2 linked regions of the Homo sapiens genome follow. The protein of the gene in region 1 purifies or fractionates together with the protein of each later gene. This does not show direct contact. Each region holds a gene or a part of one and is shown on either strand. Other genes may lie near its edges. The genes, in order: A1CF and PSMG2.

Region 1 (3,829 bases):
ACCTATCGGATCTGGCATCGGTCAGGGTCCCAAAAGAAAACAAATAGCAAAGGAATTAATTACAAAAGTGCGAGTGGGGACTAGGGAAATCAAAAAAGAGTGTCAGAATTTGGGGCTCACAGCATTCTGGAGTCAAAGGTACAAGGGGCTGGAGAATTAATAGAAATCCTGAAAGGGGAGAGAATTGTGTAGAGCAGATCTCTTTGCAAGAAGTTGCTGGGTGCAGTGGCTCGCACCTGTAATCTCAGCACTTTGGGAGGCTGAGGTAGAAGGATTGCTTGAGCCCAGGAGTGCAAGACCAGCCTGGACAAGATGGCAAGACCTCATCTCTACAAAAAATTAGCCGAGCATGGTAGCATGGACTACTACAGTAGTCCCAGCTACTCCGGGGGCTGAGGTGGGAGGATCTCTTGATCCCAGGAGGCTGAGGCTGCAGTGATCTATGATTGTGCCTTTGCACTCCAGCCTGGGCAACAGAGTGAGACCCCACCATTAAGGAAAGAAAGAAAAGAGAAAAGAAAGAAGCAGTGATTTTGGTCAAAGGACACAGTCAGCCCAAGGTGACCTCTCAAAGACGGGTCCAGCAGAATAAATGCCCCGAATTCACTGTTGTCTCTTCTCCAACCTCCTACCAGTGTTCCCCATTGGCTAAATGCAATCACAATCTAGAAGGCTAAAGAGGACCCCATGTAGAACAGCTTCCCAGAGCAGAGAGCAGGCTGGAGCTGGTAGGTGGTGAATTCCATAGGCAGTGGATCCAGATGGCAAAGGGAGGATCTCTTAGCCTAGGCCCTTCAGACACTGTGGAGCCTCTTGCATATTAGCTCCTCAGGGGCCCACTCAAACTCAAAAAGTTTGAATACTGGAGGGTGGGGTGGAGAAAGTATTCACTCTGAAATACAAAAAAGAAAACTGCAAAGAAAAACTAATGCATAAATACATGTCTATAAAGAAAAGCATTATTTCATCTTCATTGATGATCACATTTAGTATCATAAAAGTGTTATTACTTGGAAAACAATTTGTAAGTTAGATTTTCTCTATATGGAAACATTCCTGAGTATACATGATGATTGCTGGGAAGGAACAGCCATCACAAATTAAATGCCAAAAATTACGTTGGAATAATTACAATTGAAACATATTCAAATTCCCAATTTTTGCAGCTAGATATTTTTAGAGTAATTATTTACACATATTATTTAGTTAAATATATATTTAATATTATATTTGACTATAATGTGGTATGGAAAAATCAAAAGTAAGTTTTCCTAGGAACTATGAAGGTTTTTGAGCATATATAGAGATATTTATATTTAATTTGTTAGATGAAGTGAGATCTTGAAATTTTTTCTACGATAATTATCACATTTACAATTTAGGAAAATTAGCCTAGTAAGAACTGACTTTTTAATACAGGTGAGAGAAACATGTCATAGAAACTAGTTATAAAGCTATTATAGTCAACCAAATGGGACAAAATAAAGTCTTGAACTTAGGTAGGAATGGAATGTAGGAGACAGCCATATGCAGAACAGTAAGGGATAAATTCAAAGGACGCAGGAACTGATTGGAGATGGGGTGAAAAAGAAGGACAAGTCATTATAAGCTTCCAATATGGTAGGTTGTTATGAAAGTCAGGAAGGGAAGCCTATTCAGAGAGAAAAATGATGAATTGAGCTTCAGAATGATTATTCATTTATTCTTTTTGTAAGTCTATGAAGTGAAAGAAATTTTACTAAGCTTGGGCTATACAGATTAATAAGATATTGTCCTAGCTCTGGAAATATCTAAACCAAATAACTAAAATACAATATTGAATTTAAAATGCTTTTGGATGGGACAAAGGAAGGCAGAACAAAATTTGTTACAAGATATCTGAATTTGCCGCAAAGAATCATTCCATGCAAAACATCTCTTGATATGGAAGTGCCTATAAGCAGAGACCTATTTGGGTCTCTCATCTTCCTCAAGACTGGACTGAAGATATAAAGAATCTTATACCCAAGTTCCTCCCCTATTTTCAGTATGCCAGGTCTACTTTTTCTAATTACATCAACATCAATATAAGATTGTTGAATATCAGCTGGATTCTGTCTGTCTCTCAGAGTATTCCATCTAACTTATTTGACACTGGCTCCTGCTACTAAAAAGTAAGGTAAATACATAATACTGGGGACAAATTGACCAAGAGGCTGAACAAAATGGTCAGGATGACCATGAAGCACAAGCTTTGTCCAGCAGACTTCAATAATCCAGGAACCACTGAGTCACTGTTGAAATCAGAGGGTAAGGGTGCACACTCAGCTGCTGTGAATGGGAATTTCTGTAGAAACACTTTACATAAAAGTGTTCTTTATATAAAACAGAGGATCTTCACATTCTTATTCAAAAACAAAGCCACAAATGCTTTCAGACAATACTTTGTTCCTTTGATAATAAATACATCAATCTATCAAGAATTTCTTGAGAGCCATCATTGTTTATTGTGTAGGCAAGCAATACATAGAAGTTAGTAGCACACGTAGATCTACATACATCCATTATCTTTGACATCTGGAGCTGTTTGCAGTCTCAGAATTTGTGTCAGAATTCTTAAGGACAGGTTTTAAGCAGTGCATGATCTGAGAACCTCAATACTACTCTCACTCCCAACTACTCCTGACCCCTGTCATCCCTGTTTATTAGCTCCCAACTGTTCAGCAGATCAAAAGGTGGCTTCACAAGGAAGAACCTGTGGCAGGCAATGCAACAGCCTCCCAGATTCCTCTTCCTTTGGTAGAGCCACAGTATGTCTCTCTTCTCCAGTGAAAACTTACTTGTGTGGCTGCTCTAAGGAGCAAGACAGTTAGCGGGCTATCAGCTGGAAGGGCCTGATTTGGCTGCCCATGCTAAATGCTAATAATTGATAAGATTTCTTTATTGGTTTCCTTTCACCTTCATCTTATTGTGCAAGGTAATGGAGATTTTATACCATCCATAACAAACCTAAATTGTCTTGTAGTTATATAATTATATAAATATGTAATTTAAAACACATATATGACCTAATAAAAATATTACATAACTTTCTGTCTCAGTGACTGTAACCAGATTGTAAATTTATAATGAATATGTCAATGGACACTGGCCAATATGTCACTGTCAAACCTGTTGGCATCTTATGCAACTTACCAACAAAATGGCTCAGAAAAAGTTCAACTGGCATACAAAACAAACCTATAAAATGACAAGATACAATCAATAAACCTACAGCAAATAGTCTAACACTTAGAAGGAGTCATGTTATTAGGGCTCAGCCACACTTGGTTATCTTCATATCATCTCGCGTTGATATTTCTTTGCTCTCTACAACAGGTGCTGGATGGTTCCCCCATTGAAGTCACCCTAGCAAAACCAGTGGACAAGGACAGTTATGTTAGGTATACCCGAGGCACAGGTGGAAGGGGCACCATGCTGCAAGGAGAGTATACCTACTCTTTGGGCCAAGTTTATGATCCCACCACAACCTACCTTGGAGCTCCTGTCTTCTATGCCCCCCAGACCTATGCAGCAATTCCCAGTCTTCATTTCCCAGCCACCAAAGGACATCTCAGCAACAGAGCCATTATCCGAGCCCCTTCTGTTAGAGGTAACACCAGTCAGATCTTGCTTTAGAGTAATCCCAAGATTTCAAATGACTCAAATTGCAGTAGCCTTAGATACATTGGATGGGTCCACTTGGAGAAAAGCACTGAAAAATTGTTTATTAAAAATCAACTATTATATCAATAGTTTTCCTTTAATAGGAATCTTTTTCACATTACAACTGGTTATTGAAAAAACGTCA
Region 2 (3,428 bases), on another chromosome or scaffold:
CGCATGCCACCACACCCGGCTAATTTTTTGTGTTTTTAGTAGAGACAGGATATTGGCCAGGCTGGTCTCGAACTCCTGACCTCAGGTGATTTGCCTGCCTGGGCCTCCCAAAGTGCTGGGATTACAGGCATGAGCCACCACGCCCGGCCCCAAGATGTAGCATTTAGATCATTTATTTTTTATTTTTTATTCTTTTGGGGATGGAGTCTCACTCTGTCACCCAGGCTGGAGTGCAGTGGCACAGTCTTGGCTCACTGTAACTGTTTTAGATGATGTAGATCATAACTTTTATCACTTAGACACCTATAAAACCAGGATGAAAAAATACCAACAAGCCAAGAGTTACCTTTCAAAATGAGCTAATTTCCAGGACTTTCACAAAAGACATTACAGGCTTCATGGCAGAAGGGAGGAAAGCTGTGGGAAATTTTTGCAATGGGCTTGCCTAAGTGTTTCTGTCTTTTTATATTGTCTCCTAAGTAAGTAAGTAAGTAGCAAATCAGAGCAATATTTTTTACTTAAGTCTGCTGAAACTTGTGTTTTGCCTGTGCAGCAGAATATATGGAGACCAAGAGAATTTTAGCTAAAGAACCGATGTTTGCTTTAGAGTTTTTAAAAAGTTAACTATATGATTATTTCTAGTACTCCCTTCCGGTACCTACTTACACCTTCCATGCAAAAAAGTGTTCAAAATAAAATAAAGAGCCTTAACTGGGAAGAAATGGAAAAAAGCCGGTGCATTCCTGAAATAGATGATTCCGAGTTTTGTATCCGCATTCCGGGAGGAGGTATCACAAAAACACTCTATGATGAAAGGTGAGTTTGTTTGCCTGTTCATTTGTTTCCCACTTTACTTAAAAATGAAATTAATGCAGTGAGCTGAGATCGTGCCACTGCACTCTAGCCTGGGTGACAGAGCAAGACTCTGTCTCAAACAAAAAACAACAACAAAAAAAACAAAATTAAGTCAGAGAATGTATTGGATTACTTACTGAAACTTTGAGAATATATTGCTAGGCCGGGCACGGTGGCTCACACTTGTAATCCTAGCGCTTTGGAAGGCCGAGGCAGGCGGATCACGAGGTCAGATCAATCAAGACCAGGAGATCGAGACCATCCTGGCTAATATGGTAAAAACCTGTATCTACTAAAAATACAAAAAATTAGCTGGGCGTGATGGTGGGCACCTGTAGTCCCAGCTACTCGGGAGGCCGAGGCAGGAGAATGGTGTGAACCCGAGAGGCGGAGTTTGCAGTGAGCCGAGATCGCGCCACTGCACTCCAGCCTGGGAGACAGCAAGACTCCGTCTCAAAAAGAAAAAAAGAAAATATATTTACAAAACTGGTACTATTGTAGAGCTCTTGCATTTAGGGGAAAGATTTAAACTTGGTTATAGAAGAACTGGTTTCTCAAAAGCCATATTTAATGCTTTTATTTTGTGTGACTTTTTAGGGATTCTAATACTTATTCTTTGCAACCTCTACACGCGCACTTTTTTTTAATTGTGGTAAAATATACATCGTGCAAAATTTACATTTATCACACATTTTAACTATATTTAAGCGTACAATCAAGTGCCATTAATTCACAGCATCTGCATCCATCAGCACTGTCTACTTCTAGAACTTTGTCGTCATACTAAATTAAAAAATCTGTACCCATAAATAATAACTCCCAACTTTATTTCTGTAAAATTGGTGTTGATGTTCCCATTTTCATTTCTTATTTTAATAATTTGAGTCTTTTCTTTTTTTTCCTAGTCAAGCTAGCTAAAGATTTGTCAGTTTTGTTTTTCTTTGAAGAACCAGTTTTGATTTTGCTGATTATTGTTTTTCTATTCTCTATTATTCTATTATTCTCTATTATTTCTCTCTTACCTAATCTTTATTTTTTTCCGCTAGCTTTGGATTTGATTTGCTTTTTTTTCTCTTTTCCAAGGTGTAAACTTAGGTTATTAATTTAAAAGTTTTTTTCTTTTTTACTGAATGTGTTTACAGCTGTAAATTTTCCTCTTAGTGCTGTTTTCACTGCATGCCCTGGGATTTGACATGTCGTGTTTTCATTTTCACTCATCTCAGTATTTTCTCATTTCCCTTGTGTTTTTGTTCCGTGTTCCTCTCTTGTCCCCCTTGCAAACACCTACCTCCTTTCTAAGAGTCAACTTACCCTTCACCTCCTGTCTGCAATCTTGCCTTTTCCTGTCTTCTAGACAAGGAAGTTGCGTCTGCACTCCCACTGCACTCCACCTCTTCTATACTTTGTTGCACTTACTTTACCAATCAATCCTCCTAAACTTTTGCTTCTGACCAAGACAGAGTAACTGATATCAGACTTGCCCTCCTGCCATAAAAATACTGGAACCTGACAATTTATGAAACAACTGTTTTCCAGACATTGGACTACAGGCAGCACATAGCTGTCATCCCTAAGAGAAGGCAAATTTTAAGTCTACAGTTGCCTGGCTTTCTGCTTGAGATACTTTCTGGACTGCAGCACAGGGAGCGGAACCCAAGCAGAGCTGAGTGGAGGAAATCAGTTAAGACTACAGGGAGGCCGAGGCAACTGGAAATACAGGGCAGAGAATCCGAGGGCAGGGGTGCTGCTCATCAGAGTCCAGGGGTCTGTTTCCTTGGGTCTGTCTTCTTGGGTATAGGGTGAAACTATGAGGACAGGCAAAGAACAGCTTCTGGTTAGCTATAAGCTTGCCCACAAAGTTAGCGGTGATAAACAGAAAGTATTATAAAAGTTAGACCTACTCAGCATCAAACATTCAGGAAATGCGGATTTTACCCTGAAGAAACAATATTTAAAATACTCAGTTGTATCAACCAGAATAAAATAGTTCCAAATAAAAAAGTAATAATAATAGTCATCCTCTGCCTTTCTTTTTAGCAGAAGACCAGAGGGTAATATTGAAATGATTATCCCACACTGTGTGACAAACTAATAAGAGGCGCGATAAGCTGAAGAGCATACCCCTGCGCTTTCCAAGTTAGAGCCTTGAAAATGCAAGCACAGCCTCGGAGCCAGCCTTCTCCAGGCGAGAGCCTTGCCTGAGGCCATCACAGCAGACGCATTTAGGAACTGGAATTTTCTGAGCCATCAGAGCTCATAGTGGTTCCATACAAAGATTGAGAGCCCCTAAGGTGTTTGAGAACCAAGTACTGGGCTAGGGTGAGTGAGGCTAACAGTTTCTACTTTGTAGTTTTTAGAGACAGAAACTAAAGTTAGCCTGGTATCATCTGAGACTTCCGAATGTATATATCAGAGTCTCCTCGGTGCCTTTCCTTCCTTAGAACTCGGCTCACTTTTATTTCTGTAGCTCTCTTCTCTGTCAGTCTCGTGCTTTCAAGTTTTGGCATGGCATTTTTCTCATAGTTCTTGGTTTTAGGGTGTTAGGAGTAATTTTTGCATTTATTGGCAAGCAG

Evidence for each region.
Region 2: the proteins of A1CF (region 1) and PSMG2 purify together in Homo sapiens (affinity purification with mass spectrometry; 2 studies listed by BioGRID and IntAct, with this or other methods). This does not show direct contact.

The regions. Positions count from the first base shown.
Region 1 is NC_000010.11:50,815,808-50,819,636, reverse strand, and holds part of A1CF (APOBEC1 complementation factor), read left to right. Parts: intron 1-3,357; coding exon 3,358-3,631; intron 3,632-3,829. UniProt on the Homo sapiens protein: Essential component of the apolipoprotein B mRNA editing enzyme complex which is responsible for the postranscriptional editing of a CAA codon for Gln to a UAA codon for stop in APOB mRNA.
Region 2 is NC_000018.10:12,719,868-12,723,295, forward strand, and holds part of PSMG2 (proteasome assembly chaperone 2), read left to right. Parts: intron 1-642; coding exon 643-816; intron 817-3,428. UniProt on the Homo sapiens protein: Chaperone protein which promotes assembly of the 20S proteasome as part of a heterodimer with PSMG1.